Regions from separate parts of the Homo sapiens genome. Here regions 2 and 3 are each linked to region 1. The links come from fine-mapping of genetic effects on gene expression. A gene starts in region 1. Each other region holds a variant in brackets. All regions are shown on one strand. Distances are between the middles of the regions. Region 1 holds the start of PDCD2 (programmed cell death 2). Region 2 overlaps LOC101929692 (a long non-coding RNA gene). Region 3 overlaps TBP (TATA-box binding protein).

Region 1 (5,230 bases):
GTATCATGTTTATCGTATAGGCATGAACACACGCGCGGCCCCTTCCAGGCAGTCTTCAGTGATGTCACGTGTTCCCATGGCACCTGTATTGTACTCTTATCAGTCATTATATGGACTTTAACTTCCCCAGATATTATTTGGGCTCCTCCATAAGACTGTGAGCATCTGACCACTGGAGTGTTGCTTCCCATTATATCCCTGTTATCAAGCACAAGGTCAGGCACAGAGTAAGACTCAAAACATGTTTTGGAATGTATGACTGGTATGAACTACAAACCAGTAAGCTGATGTTTTCATTTTGAGTCTATAAATCTAATTTTGTGGTGGTTTTGTGTATGGCTCAAGGCTCAAATTGTAAAATTTAATATTATGTGACCAAAGAAAGTTATACCCAGAACCTCAATTTCCTCACCTTCAAAATGGGGCAGTTTCTCACTCATTGGTCTGCTGTCACGATTTTAATGAGCTCATGCACAAACAGCCCTTTATATAAGGTAAGTGCTGGATAAATGTTGGCTACTATAATAAAATAAGCCTCTAAGATACTTGGTCAGCACAAGTACTACCCAAGAGTATGCACTGTAAGTAAACTGACAAAATTGTGTATCTAAAACTGGCCAGATGAAAGAGAAACTTTTAAGGGGCCCTTCTGCGTGCCCGACACTGTGCTAGGCACTCACACTATCCCGACCCGAGAAACCGATCTGCGACCCAGAGGAACTTACCAAGCCTCCAGCATCTTGTGCAGCCCTACTCATGGGACCATCTGGATACCCACCCTTGTCTTTACAGGGAGCAGAACACACCTCTTATGTGTCAGAAAACAAAGTCCAGGAAGTATATTTTTACCTGAGGCAATATCTGAAAATTGTATGCTACAGCCTCCAAAGTGAGTCTTCCTCTCAGTACCTCTCTTCTAGGCACATGGAGCCCTTTCTTCCAAGTATTATGTTTAACCACTTAATGAATGAAGTCCTGAAACTGCTTACCCATGCTCCCTATAATCTCTGAGTAATCTTCCTTTTCCACAACCTCAGGCATAATCTCATCTTCTGTTTCTATTACAATTTCAAATTCTGGAAAAAGGAAGTTGTGGTCTGGAATTATATGGTCCAGATGATCTGAAACAAAAAGGACAGCACTATTAGTAATCATTTAGTTTTGAAGACAGTCTAATAATTTGCTGTCTCTAAAGTACTATATTCCCTATAGTTCTGGCATTTTAGATAAAGGGTCATAAATTAAATGCCTATATGGTGACATTATTCAGTGATTCAGACTTCACAGCCTTTTTTTTTTTTTTACAAAGGTGTTCCAGGCATGAAAAATTTTAAAGTACTATACCTTTCCTAATTTTACCTTTAAAGTTGTCCTGGAAATATCTGGGTTGACAAAGGCGATGAAACTGAACTGAGACTTAAAAAAAAGATTACCCACCTGGTTGTGCACAAGCCTGCTTATGTCCCAATCTCCAGTCTAGGGTCTGATGCTCCTTGCTGCAGTAATATGCTTTGTGGCATCTGGAGCACGTTTTGGGGCCTAAACAGCCACAAACCCTGCAGAGATGAGCACCAGACTTAAGCTGGAGACACACTGATTCTCCTGTTTCTGGGGGAGGATTCTCAGAAGGTGGCTCATATGAGTAAAAATCGTTTTTCCTGGGTAGTTGATTCCTAAAAACTAAAAAAGAATACAGAGAAAAGTTTTATCTTCAAACAAAACAGCAATTCACATATTTTATCCTCTGCACGTAAAACTGAAAATAACAACAACAAAAAAGAAATGAAAGTTTTTGCTTTCAGGAATAAGCTTTTAAAATCCAGAAACTAGATTTCGTCCGGTACACGCAACTGAGTTGCCTCCTAGAGGTGGTTTGAGTTAATCAAATTAATAAGACTGATCGTTAAGAACGACTGCCAAAAATACGAAAAAGCTACTGGGATCCATCTTTCCAAGACAATTTCTATTATCTGAATTAACACCATACCTGGTACCCACTGATTAAAAGCTGGGGGTTACCAATGCGCGTGGGCACAGTTAGAAGCTTATGTAGCAAAAATGAGCACATCCTGGAAGGGCCCGGGAGAAGGTGCTCCTGGGGCAGCGCGGAGAGGGAGCTCTGAGGCTGGGGCGGCAGCGGTGCTTGCCGCCGTCCCCCTGGTCGCTCCCGGAATTAACGCCGCGCACGCGTCGGAGGCATGGCCCCGTCCCGACCCCGTTTGGCGGCTCACCTCGCAGGCCGGCACAGCACGGCTGCTCGCGGCAGCAGAAGAGGAAGATGCAGCGGTGGAAGGCGTCCGGGCGGCCAGGCAGCGGCGCATACACCTGCAGCAGGAAGGAGAGCGGGCGGCCGCACAGCTCGCAGGCCAGGGCCTGGGGCCCCGGCAGCCCGGCCGCGCCCAGCCATGCCGGCCGCCCGCCCACCTTGCTGGGGAACTGCTCGCTGCGCAGTCGCCACGCCGGCGCCGACTCGGCGAAGCCCAGCTCCACAGGCCTGGCCCCGGCGGCAGCCATGCGGGGCGCGGGCTGGCGTGGGGCGCAGCCCACAGCTGGGTCGGAAGGCGGAAATCGGGCGCCGGGCCGGAAGGCAAGAGGCGGGCACCTTTCCGGAGGACAGGAGGCGGAAACGCGTCTGACGGGAGCGGTTGCAGGACCAATGCGAGGGAACGGGGCAGAGGAAACCTCTCGGCATCAGCCCCGCCCCTGGCGCCTCTGCCTCCGAGCCGCTTTCCTGGTGCCTCCGGGTGCTCTGGGATGGTTCTGGTCTTTGGGAGAGTGGCAGCTGGTGACGGCGCTCCGCTCACCTCTGCACATGTCTTGCTGTGGGCCTGCGGGTGGCCGCCAGGGAGGCAGAGCCCTCCCGCAAACCTTCCCTGCTGGTGTCCACCTCAGGGTGTGGGAAACCTGTGCGCTGGCCGAGTGCTAACCAAGAGTAGGCAGTGAAAGACAAATGAAGGTTGAACAGGTAAAGTGAGGACCCTACAGCGGAAACCAAGAATCCTGTGTGCCTGAGAGTAATGAAGAAGCCTCTGCAGAAGAGTCTTTTCTGTCAGTCTTAAGGTCTCTGTTTTAATGTTAGTGCTGGCTTGCTGTACCTGAATTCCAAGGGAGGAGTGTATAATGAGGCATGGCCAACCCCCACTTCCCATCATTGCCTGAACTAGTTTTTCAGGTTAACTTCAGAATGCCCTTGGGCAAGCAGAGGGTCCATCAGTCGGTTGGAGGGTTTAGAATTTTACTGTTGGTTTGCAAAGGTCTGAAAGAAACATGTACCACCTGTTCTCTTTAAGGAGTTCTACTTAGGAGGTTTCATTTACATAACAAGACCGTGGTTGTCAGCCAGGTCTCCACCCGCATAACCTGTTATGCCACAATCCAAACCCCCATTCTGTAACCTCAAGATGGTATATAAGTTTCTGAACCCCATTTGGGGCTTCAGCAAAATCACTCTGGTTCTCCCCCATGTGCATGTTAATAAATTTGTATGCCCTTTCTCCAATTAATGTGCCTTTTGTCAGTTGACTTTTCAGTGAACCTTCAGAGGACAAAAAGGAAGCTTTCCCTTGGCTACTACAGTGGCTTTAATGGAAGTAAAGTCATCAACAACATTTATTTTTGACAAAATCACAGTTTAGTTGGCAGTATATTTGTTTGTTTTTGTTTTATTTGAGATGGAGTCTCGCTCTGTCGCCCAGGCTGGAGAGCAATGGTGCGATCTCGGCTCACTGCAACCTCCGCCTCCCGAGTTCAAGCATTCTCCTGCCTCAGCCTCCCGAGCAGCTGGGTAGCAGTATATTTGTAATGGTACATAAAATAATGTCTGTTTTTAAATAAACATTTACATTGTAAACCAAAAGTTAACTCTCCATCAATTTTTTTTTTTCTTTTTTGAGATGGCATCTTGCTCTGTCACCCAGGCTGGAGGAGTGCAGTGGCATGATCTCGGCTCACTGCAACCTTCGCCTCCCAGGCAAGCGATCCTCTTGCCTCAGCCTCCTGAGCAGCTGGAATTATAGGTGTGTGCCAATACAACCAGCTAATTTTCGTATCTTTGGTAGAGACAGAGTTTCACCATGTTGGCCAGGCTTGTCTCGAATTCCTGACCTCAGTTGATCTGTCCGTCTCAGCTTCCCAAAGTGCTGGGATTACAGGCATGAGCCACCACATCCGGCATCCATCAATTTAGAAAGTTTATTTCACCAAGATTAAGGTTGCACCCGTGACACAGCCTCAGAAGGCCCTGATGACCATGTGCCCTTGGTGGTCAGGGTACAGCTTGCTTTTATACATGTTAGGGAGACATGAGACATCAATCAGTATGTGTAAGATGTACTTTAGTCAGGTAAAGCGGGACTTGAGGTGAGGGCTTCCAGGTCATGAGTAGATAAGAGGCAAAAGATCGCATTTTTTTGAGTCCTTGATCAGCCTTCCACTGAATACACAATTTAGTCTGGCTCAGTGAATTATCATTTTTACGTAAACAATAGGGGAGGGGAAGCAATTAGATATGCATTTGTCTCAGGCGCACCTTAAAGGGATAACTTTGAGTTCTGTCTGTCCTTTATCCACAAGGAATTTCCTTGTGGGCAAATTTTAAGGGAGGTACGTAGCCTCTTATCTTGGCAGCTATCTTATTTAGGAATAGAATGGGAGGCAGGTTTGCCTGACATAGTTTCCAGCTTGACTTTACCCTTTGGTTTAGTGATTTTGTGGTCCTGAGTTTTATTTTCCTTTCACAGAAATTATACCGTAAAAGTAATTGAAGAAAATCACTTCTTTCCCCTTCCCTCAACTAGGCCTTGACCATTTTAAATAAAATCAGGATTTGCTGAAGGTCAACAAATTTAACCAAGTTCAGTTAAAACTTAACTCTGAATCTGTATGTCCCTGGGGTCTTTTCCAGTGAGAGATGTCTAAGCATCATTCCAAGCTTTTCTATACTAACTGGCCTATTTGTATGTTTCTTATTTTAGGATTCCTTTTGTTCATGTGTATTTTTATTAGGCAATCACCCATTTCCTGTAGGTTTCCAGGTTAATATATTTTTCTTATTGGAATTTTAATTTATCCTCTCTAGTTTTCTACATATTTTTTTTTTCTTTGAGACGAGGTCTCATATGTTGCCCCGGTTGGCCTCAAACTCCTGGGCTTAAGCAATCCTCCCACCTTGGCCTCCCAAAGTGCTGGGATTATAGGTGTGAATTACTGTACCCAGCCTAGAATCCTTAGT
Region 2 (5,230 bases), 52 kb after region 1:
TGGAGAATTTTATATTTTTCATGAAAAAGGCAATTTGGGAGAAAAGTCCATTTTCCTGAGGATAAGGTATTGTATGGTTTGACTGCTTTGCCTTGGCTGGTCAACACATTTGTACACCTGGATAGGCACAGTTTTCAGAAATCCTTTCAAGCATCTACCAATTCTCCTGTCTACAAGTTTACCTTCCTCCCATTTCTCATTCCTAATGACAAGGGAAATATCCAGTGTTATCTGAAGTGGTCATAAAAGACATTTTTTTTCTTTTTATGTGAGGAATTGAAACTTATGGCTTTAGATTATGGGGCTTACCATCAAGGAAAGGGCGTAGCGTGGTCAGAGGACAAAACTTCTTCCTGCATTTCTCAGGAAGTCTTTGATTAGTGTGTCCACCTAGGAGCAATTTTTTTTGGGGGGGGCGCTGGGAAATATACTTAAGTGATTAAATCCAAGTGTAGACATGAGAGCTTTACCTAAAGCCAGGTCTAATTACCATACCTGAGAATCAGGGAGTATTTAAAATTTGAGAAATAATTTTCTATACTTGAAAGTCACTTATGTAGGTAGGCCTCAGATTATAATAAATAACGTTTATTGTGCTATACTATGTGGTAGGTATGAGGTTAAGTATTTTTACCTATATTATATCACTTATTTCTTACAAATGGAGCAAGGGAGCAAGCAAACAAGGGAGGTATTATTATCCCTATTTTATGTATTTATGTATTTATTTTTGATTTCTATTCTTTTGGTTTTTTTGTTGTTTTTTATTGATGTATCATAGTTGTACATGTTTTGGGGTACATGTGATATTTTTGATACATGTATACAATGTGTAATGATCAAATCAGAGTAATTTGGATATTCATCACCTCGAATATTTATCTTTTCTTTGTGTTGGGAACATTATAATTTTTCTCTGCTAGCTATTTTAGAATATATAATAAATTATTGTTCCCTATGATTTCTCCATTGTATAATTGAATACTAAAATTTATTATGTCTATCTACATATCCCCAGTTCAATAACTATAATTTCTCTGCTGTGCAATCAAATACTAGAACTTCTTCCTTCGAACGCTATATCCCTAATTCAATAACTAGTAAACTGAAGCTCAGCATGGTCTAGGAACTTTGTTACATTAACACAGCAAGTGAGTGTTGCAGCCTGGATCCAAAAATCAGGCCTGGTCGACCTCAAAGTCCAGATTATTGACCTTTCTACCATAATGTATGGAGGTAAGTTTGTGAATTTATTCAAAAATCAGGCCTGGTCAACCTCAAAGTCCAAATTATTAACCTTTCTACCATAATATATGGAGCTAAGTTTGTGAATTTTCATAGTTTTAGGATTTGAAGATAAAAGAGGTGAAAATTTGGAAATGGTTTCTGGACTTTTGAATTTTGGCAAACAGCTATGTGATAAGTCCACCCTGCAGACCCACAACTTTTGGAAATAACTCTACTGTGATCTTCAGTAGCAGAAGCTGCTCCTGGGGTGGTAGAACACAAGGAAAACACACACTAGTAAAAATTTCATGTGGCTTCTTTGTTCTGTACATGTGTTTCTCTTGATTAGTATATGGTAGTATCCTCAAATCATAGTAACGAGTATACTTTTTCCAGTGAATTGCATGTGTATATTATTGTATAGTATAAAAGGCAATATTTCCATTTATTATCATCTGTGCTTTTCAAAGAAACTCTGTGAGTCCAAAAGGGCAGATAATAGAAGCAACTGCCCTTTCTCTCCCCCTTTAAATGCAACCCAATGTCAAAGTCCGTAGCATCCCCAGATGAGTGTGTTAAAGGTGAGAAATTCCCAAAGTCAAACTCAGTAGCATCCTTGAATGAGTGTATTAAAGGTGATAAATTTATTTTATGTATGTTCTTTTTAACCTGTGTTCTCAGAAACAGAGACTACTGTATTTCATCCTACCTTAGTCTTGCTTAGCAGTTTCTCTTCTCCTTTGAGGCTCTTTTATTTTTAAATCATTGTTCATATCTTCTAATCTCCCCTTTCTCCCATTCTTCCCATATTTTTAATCTTGTTTTAACTTTATCTCTGTTCTACTTTTTCTGTATTTCAAATTGATCCATAGACTTTAGAAAAATGAGTTGAATGCTGGCTGTAGGCTGTCTTATCCCCAGCAAGAAACATGTTGTAAAGTCTTAGTACCTTCCCACTGGAAGATCATTAGTCATGGCTACTATGTTTTTAAATGAGAATTGTTTTAATTATGCATTTTAAAATTATTGGAAAACATGAGGGAGAGGAATGAACCATAAGTAATAAAGATTATTGACTTGAAGTTAAGACCTTACTATGATCTGGGATTATTAGTCTTACTTGTCAATC[A/G]AGAACTATCCACTTTCTATTCATTTGTGGGTATCTAATATGGTTATATACACAGAAGTAATGATAATTGATATGAAAAGGTCTCCTCCTGTTATATCAATTTAGGTATTTTTCACACATTGTATACCTCATTCTTCTCCTATTCAATTTTCACTAATTCCTAAAGGGTCAGGTCAATGTCCTTGGCATAACCTCCTCCACCTGTTCTTAATGGCAATCGTCTCTTCTGCCCTCCAATATCTATAACACTTTTTTCTTTAAAACTCTTTGAATGTTTATCTTAATACTCATTTGATATATATTGTATACCACATATGATTGTTTGTTATATGTACAATACATGTTTTTTCAACTTTTTTTGGTTCTTTCTATTTACAGGAATTAGAGAAAGAACAAATCAGTGTGAAGGAGAATTGTCAGTAAAATTACAAGAAAAGATTGAGATCATAATTGACCTTTGAGGATAATAAAATTTAAAGACCAAAAGGATGGACTTCACAGAAACATGACCTTAGGTTGTTTTTGCAGTTGTAGTAACTGGTTATATGACCAACAAAATATGAAGAATGGGTACAAATTCTGATAGTAATGATCAGTCACTTTGCAAATATAAAGCTACTATTTACTACTGTATTGTACAGGTTCAATAATCTTTGTGTACACATTTTATGTATTTATTGTCAGGCTGCTATATAATTCAGTATTTATAATAGATACTATGTATAGCAATCTATGGTTAGTTTTGGTCTTAACCAGGAAAAATCACTCTTTTGAGTTTTGCTGTTTTTACTAGATTATTTTTACTGGATGATTGCTCATATTATTTGATTATTATTGCAATTTGTCTTTCTGGAATAGGAAGCAAGAGGCCTGAATTCTGGTTCCTATTCTATCAATTGTGTGAATTCTGGAAACTCAGTTTACTTTTCTGGGCCTCATGGTTTTCATCTGAATGATGACCAACTTGGATAAAATGGTCTTTATATAATTTCGTAGGCATTTCCCTTCCCAAGGGCTTGAGTCTTTTTCAACAATTATAGAGTTTTCCGGTCCCTCTTCCCAGTGCCTCAGCACCTTGCTATTCATGTTCATCTGATCAGTTGTTTGCATGCTGACTTACATTACCCTGATGGGCAGTACCTGTGGCTGTTTCTGCTCCCTCACCCAGTCCATAGGCTTCTGGTTGTAAAAAGTGTGCATCTTGAGACTGTGGACAGTTAGCTCCAGAGGTGACAGTATAATCACTTCACGTAGAAGAGGATAGAGAGAGACTCATGCCAGTGGTGGTGAGCAAGTATTAGAGATATGATGTGTGCCTCTGTGAGTTTTGGGGTCTAAGATAAATTATGGCACTAGGAAGATGGTCCTTTGTGTCAGAAGAACTGGAGTTGTTGGTGCAAAAAAGTATGATGTCAGCATAGCAGTTTTATTTGTACCTCAGCAACTTCTAAAATAATCTCTATTAAGTGTTTTCAGGAACTACTTTCTACTATAGGAAAATCATTGAGGTGAGTATCCATCTGGACACAGAGAAATATAACACTGTTTTCTGCTCACCCTCCACTTCACATATAAATACAACATGTGTTAAAGGACTAAATTTCTAGTGTCACAGTTTGTACTTTATAGTTTGAAGTCAATAAGAAAGCTCATATACCTTCCTAAAAGTCACTTGTTAATGTTTGATATTAATCTAATTTTATCATAAATTAAAAGTATAAAACTACAAATTTCTTAAAGATAAAATATCCAAATGGATTCAGTCAAATTAAGCATGATAATATCAAATATCAGAATAGGTTACCATGCAGGAGGTACTGAGTACTTAAAAGGATGGGGAATGCAATGAACATAAAAGCTGGTACCAAGGGGAGGAGGAGACAGCGATGAATTAAAACATTATCTTAACTAATCCAAGTGCTGGTCTTCAATACTTTCATGTGTATAGACAAAGAGAAACTGCAGAGATTTCTCACAACCTCTGTGGCCATTTTATGCATCTTAGCAAAAACTCTGGTGAAATCCCTCCAAAACATATTTATTAGGCATGGAAAAAGCCTTACATGACAGGTGGCATAGGCTCCTTATGAAATCACTGCAGGATGGGAAGCCATTTAGGGCTTCGTAATTGTGAAAGATTGTATAGAAACTGAGGCACTTAAATAGCAGTGAGCATGAGAAAATGTGGTAGATAATGGTGGTGATTCTATTTCTTGTGAAAGTCCACTTACTCTGTTCTGCTACAGTTGTGGGCTTTCCGATTTCACATACCCCAGTCTCTATATTCTGTCTCAATCCACAGCCTACCTCAACTAAGTCCGTCCCAGGCACCTCTTACTGCAGGTGATAATCCATCTGTTAATCATGTTTTCCTCTTATGTCTACTTTCTGTCAGAGAATTGTGGCTACAAACTGGGAAGGGAAGGAAATTATAAGAATATGTATAAGTACAAATGGAATATGTTGGAAATGAGGAATAGTTAATATCGCAGGTCATTTAAACACCTGATGAATTTCATGGATAGTCAGGAATCTTGTTCTTACCTAATCTGTTAATTTTAGATCAGACATTACACTGAAAGTATTGATGATGGGTTTAAATCAGGTTGCAGCTCACATGTTGTGATAATATTATGTTGATTTTTTGTTTTTAATATGTGAGGAACAGAATAACTGTATACTATTTATTCATAGTGACATTGCAATATTGATTTTAGTACATATTATTATCTTCATAATCACAATTTCCTCCCCATTTTCTTAGTTCTCATAATTTTAGCCACAGCCCAGTTGGCTGGACCAATGGATGGAGAGAATCACTCAGTGGTATCTGAGTTTTTGTTTCTGGGACTCACTCATTCATGGGAGATCCAG
Region 3 (5,230 bases), 27 kb before region 1:
TATTTGCAGGGTCTCCCGTCTCTCGGTTCAGGCCATCATGGTTTTCCAAATCTCTAGGTAGACTTTTCTGTGAAAAGACTGTGCTTCATTTAGTTATACAGACACTAGAAGGCTATGCAGAATTAATTTGATTGCCTCCAAAAAATATCGGATTTGATGTTTCAATTTCCAGGAGATGAAGATACCCAGCAAACAACTCTTTTCTGAGGATAAATTAGTGCAGTAATCACTGTGCGGTTTCTTCTGTAGACTTACTTGCAAAAAGTGGCCTGAAGCCACCGAAGGTCCTGGATAAATCTCTAATCATACTTATAATGGCTTTAAATCCTGCCGTCATTATCTCTTGCCTCAACCTTAGATTCCTGAAACGAAACTTCCGTCCTCCAGTTTTACTCCTCTCAAATTCATCTAGTCTTGCCAAATTAGATCTGTTCATACTGCACTTCCGAAATTCCATAACTGTTATTATTGCCTATGCAATAACATTGAAAACTCCTGATAGTATGAGCCCACCAATATGTGCTGTCTCATCTGCTGCAGTGACCTTCTATACAGTCATACTAAGCTTGTTGCCTGCATACTGCATGCTTTTTCAATCTGTCTCTTTCTGCTTGATTTCTCTTTTGTCTGAAGCCCTGATGTGTAAATTCCTACTCACCTTGTGAGACCCAAGTTAGATGGTCCCTGCTTTGTGAAAACACTGCGCTCTCTTCACAGTGATTGGCTGTTAGTCTATATTGTCTTCTCTTCCAGGGGTGTATATGGGCTCATTCATGATCACATACTGTATTCCAGGCATAGTGCTAGATGCAGAGATCACAAAGACATGTAGGCTGGTTTCTGCATTCAAGGAACTTAGCTTAGACCATACCTGCTGTTATAATACTATGTTTTACAGTAGTTATTTGCATACCCTTCATATTGAACACTTTGATGCCAAGGACTATATCCTCCTATCTTTATATCCTCATCTGCAGGACTTCTGTTATTGTTATTATAGGATAACTGTCAAAAAAAAAGTATATTTTAAAAAATATCTCTGATATATTTATTTCCAGAAGCAGAGCTTGCTTTCTTTTTTGGTCTGTTTTTCAGTGATGAGTATGTAGGATAGATAGTCTTTGGGGGCCTTTGCCCTTTCAAAGTGATCGTCAGAGTCTTTCATACATTCAGCAAATATCTGAGTGTCTGTTCTGTACCAGCACATGCTTGAAGTGCATATGCCTGAAGGATCTTTGGACATATAATTTGTAACTTTGAGACCTCTAAGTTCTATGTGAGAATATGTTGTTATAAACTCATTTCAGATGTGTAGTGAGTAAAGCGATGATGATTTAAGAAAAGTCAGATAACAGGCACAGTTTGCATTAATGTGTTCTAAAGAGGTAAGGTTATTACATTTATAAAAATTCAGGGCTTTATCTTTGTGCGGCTTTTTTTTTTTTAACAGTTTCATTACAGTAGGAGCTTGATAAATGATCACTCTGAAGTATATTGGATTGAATTTGATATTTACTTAATTTTTTGCCCAAGACATTGTAGAGGATGTAAAATTGGAATATTTAAAGATCTAAACTTTGCCTAACAGTGCTGTGTATACAGTGCTTAGTGAATATTCTGCTCTGATATTACATTTTGCTTAGGAATTATTTTTCTCTAGGTGTTTTTCCTCAAAAGTTTTTAATGCTGGTTATGACAGCTCGATTTTGAGCATTTTCCGATTATTTAAACATGTAACAAAATGATTTTTGTTTTGTTGGCGATTTTACATGCAATCGCCGGAAACATGGAAGGAATAAAACTTTAGGATTATAAGGTAAAAACAAATGTATTCCAAAATAGCTTCATTGGTTTTCATGTTTGTGTTTTGTATAGCCATAGAACTGGCTTATAGGACTGTACAGGTTACCTGGATCCTTAAATTAAACTTTAGACTTTTTTCCAAAGCAGCATCACTGTTTCTTGGCGTGTGAAGATAACCCAAGGAATTGAGGAAGTTGCTGAGAAGAGTGTGCTGGAGATGCTCTAGGAAAAAATTGAATAGTGAGACGAGTTCCAGCGCAAGGGTTTCTGGTTTGCCAAGAAGAAAGTGAACATCATGGATCAGAACAACAGCCTGCCACCTTACGCTCAGGGCTTGGCCTCCCCTCAGGTAATATAGCAGGAGGGAGAGAATAGGGAGGGCGGAAATCTGAACTGCAAGAGATGGTATCAAAAGGCAAGGAAGGGCATTTAATGATCTGTTTTTGAAAATGGTTTAATATGTTTTTTAAGCCTTATTTTGTTGAGAAGTTCTATTAGGCTTTGAATAGGCACAATGGTGTTTATTTGGGAAGTCTGGAAGCTAAGTTATATATTTATGAAACACCTAATCTTTTGATAAACACTTATGAGAATGTTCCAAATGACTATATAGGGTCTTTGATTTTGAAAATCACCCTCACCAAATTATTTTCTAGTTTTATTTTTCCCCTTTTACATTTCAAGCTCTCAACCACCCATCTACTTTAAAAATTTTTCAGCCTGGGTGCAGTGGCTCACGCCTGTAATCCCAGCACTTTGGGAGGCCAAGGTGGGCGGATCACCTGAGGTCAGGAGTTCGAGACCAGCCTGGCCAACGTGGTGAAACCTCATCTCTACAAAATATACAAAAATTAGCCAGGTGTTGTGGCGGGTGCCTGTAATCCCAGCTACTCGGGAGGCTGAGGCAAGGAGAATTGCTTGAACCCGGGAGGTGGAGGTTGCAGTGAGCAGAGGTCGTGCCACTGCACTCCAGCCTGGGAGACAGAGCGAGACTCTGTCTCAAAAAAAAAAAAAAAAAAAAAAAAATCAATAACTTTTGTTGAAATATACATACAAAAAAACTCATTTTAAGTGTCTGTTTTGATAATTATATATAATGTATAAATTACAGAACATTTCAGTTACCTTAAAAAGTCCCTTCTTCCCCTTTATAGTCACTCTG[C/T]TGGCCCCAGGTAACTACTGCATCTGCTTTTCAATGCTGAAGATTAGTTTTGTCTATTCTAGAATTTCATATAGATGGAATCAGAGTGTATGCTTTTTTGTGTATGTCTGACTTCTTAGCCCAGTGTACTGTTTGTATATCAGTAGTTAATCCATTGTATAGCTAAGTATCACTCCATTGTTTGGATGTTCCACAGTTCATCCATTCTCCAGTTGCTCACATTTGGGGTCTTTCCAGTTTGGAGCTATTGCGAATAAAAGCACTGTAAACATTTGTGTAGACTTTGAATGCACTGTTTTTACTTCTCATGGGTAAATACTTAGGAGTAGGATTGCTAGGTCCTATATTGGTATATGTATAACTTTATAAGAAACTGCCAAACTGTTTTTTGAAGTGGCTGTATTGTTTTGCAGCATAAGAGATTTAAGTTGCTCCACATCCTCACCAACACTTTCTGCTGTCAGTCTTTTTACTTTCACTCTAGTGATTGCTTAGTAGTATCTTATTGTGGTTTTGATTTTTATTTGCCTGATTACTAATGTTTCTGAGCACCTTGGCAAGTGCTTGTCAGCCACTCATACACAGGCCCACCTCACTTTACTGCACTTCACTTTACTGCATGTTTGACAAATTGAAGGTTGTGGTAAACCTGTACCCAGCAAGTCTGTTGGCATTATTTTTCCAAAAGTGTGTACTCACTTCATGTCTTGGGGTTAGATTTTGGTAATTTTTGCAGGATTTCAAACTTTTTCATTATTATCCGTTATTGTTATCAAACTTTTTTTTTTCTTTTTTTTTGTATTTTTTTTTTAATTTTTTTTTTCAGTCACTCTGTTGCCCAGGCTGGAGTGCAGTGGTGCAGTCTTGGCTCACTGCAAACTCCATCTCCCGTGTTCAAGCGATTCTCCTGCCTCAGCCTCCCAAGTAGCTGGGATTACAGGCATGCGCCACCACACCCAGCTAAATTTTGTATTTTTAGTGGAGACGGAGTTTCACCATGCTGGTGTCAAACTACTGGCTGCAAGTGATCCATCCGCCTTGGCCTCCCAAAGTGTTGGGATTACAGGCATGAGCCACTGTGCCTAGTCAAACCTTTTCATTATTATCTGTTATTGTGATCAGTGATCTTTGATGTTACTATTGTAATTATTATTGAATGCCATAAACTGCACCTGTATAATACAGGAACTTAATTGATAAATGTCTGCAGCGTGACCAACCATTCCCCCATCTCTCTCCCTCTGCTTGGTCTTCCCTATTCCTTGAGACACAACAATATGGAAATTAGGCTAATTAATAACCTTACAGTGACTTTTAATTAAGTGTTCAGATGAAGGGAAGAGCTGCACATCTCTCATTTGAAACCAAAAGCTATAAATGATTATACTTAGTGAAGAAGGCATGTTGAAAGCTGAGACAGGCTAAAAGCTAGGCCTCTTGCACCAAATAGTTAGCCAAGTTGTGAATGCAAGGGAAAAGTTCTTAAAGGAAATTAGAAGTGCTACTCCAGTAAACCCACAAGTGATAAGAAAGCAAAACAGCCTTATTGCTTATATGGAGAAAGTTTGAATGGTCTGGATAGAAGATCATACCACCCACACATCCCCTTAAGCCAAAGTGTAATACAGAGCAAGGCCTTAACTCTCTTCAATTCTGTAAAGGCTGAGAGCGGAGAGGAAGCTGTAGAAGAAAGTTTTGAAACTAGCAGAGGTTTATTCAGAGCTTTAAGGAGAGAGGCCTTCTCCACAACATAAAAATGCAACATGAAGCAGCAAGTTATCTGGAAGATCTAGCTGAGATAATTGATGAAGGTGACTATACTAAATAATAGATTTTTAATGTAGATGAAACAGCCTTCTACTGGAAGAAGATGCTATCTAGGACTTTTATAGCTAGAGAGGAGAAATCAGTGCCTAGCCTCAAAGCTTCAGAGGACTGGCTGACTAGTTAGGGGCTAATAGAGCTGGTGAGTTTAAATTGAAGCCAATGCTCATGTTCTGCTCTAAAACCATAGAGCCTTAAGAATTACGCTAAATCTACTCTGCCTGTCCTCAGTAAACAGAACAACAAAACCTGATGAGAGCACGTCTGTTTACAGCATGATTTACTGGATATTTTAAGCTCTTTGAGATCTGCTCAGAAAAAAAGTTTAATTTCAAAATATTACTCACTGACAGTGTAACTAGTTGTCCACAAGCTCTGATGGAGAAGAACAAGGAGATTAATATTGTTTTCATGCCTGCTTAAATAATATATCCATTCTTC

What was found.
Region 2: its variant is fine-mapped to the expression of PDCD2 in whole blood (INTERVAL, PIP 0.94).
Region 3: its variant is fine-mapped to the expression of PDCD2 in fibroblasts (GTEx, PIP above 0.99).

Annotation. Positions count from the first base shown.
Region 1 is chr6:170,582,068-170,587,297 of GRCh38, forward strand. It overlaps PDCD2 (programmed cell death 2), which reads right to left and starts at 2,570. Exons shown (of 6, transcript NM_002598.4): 1 at 2,232-2,570; 2 at 1,438-1,680; 3 at 990-1,121. The coding sequence starts at 2,514. RefSeq lists a silencer at 2,300-2,539.
Region 2 is chr6:170,634,448-170,639,677 of GRCh38, forward strand. The region is part of intron 2 of LOC101929692 (a long non-coding RNA gene); the gene reads left to right. It also overlaps the pseudogene OR4F7P. Among named protein-coding and RNA genes, the nearest start is that of PDCD2, 52 kb to the left of the region's middle. The variant A/G (reference allele first, on the strand shown) is at 2,357.
Region 3 is chr6:170,554,932-170,560,161 of GRCh38, forward strand. It overlaps TBP (TATA-box binding protein), which reads left to right. Exons shown (of 8, transcript NM_003194.5): 2 at 1,951-2,152. The coding sequence starts at 2,099. Among named protein-coding and RNA genes, the nearest start is that of TBP, 3.2 kb to the left of the region's middle. The variant C/T (reference allele first, on the strand shown) is at 2,966.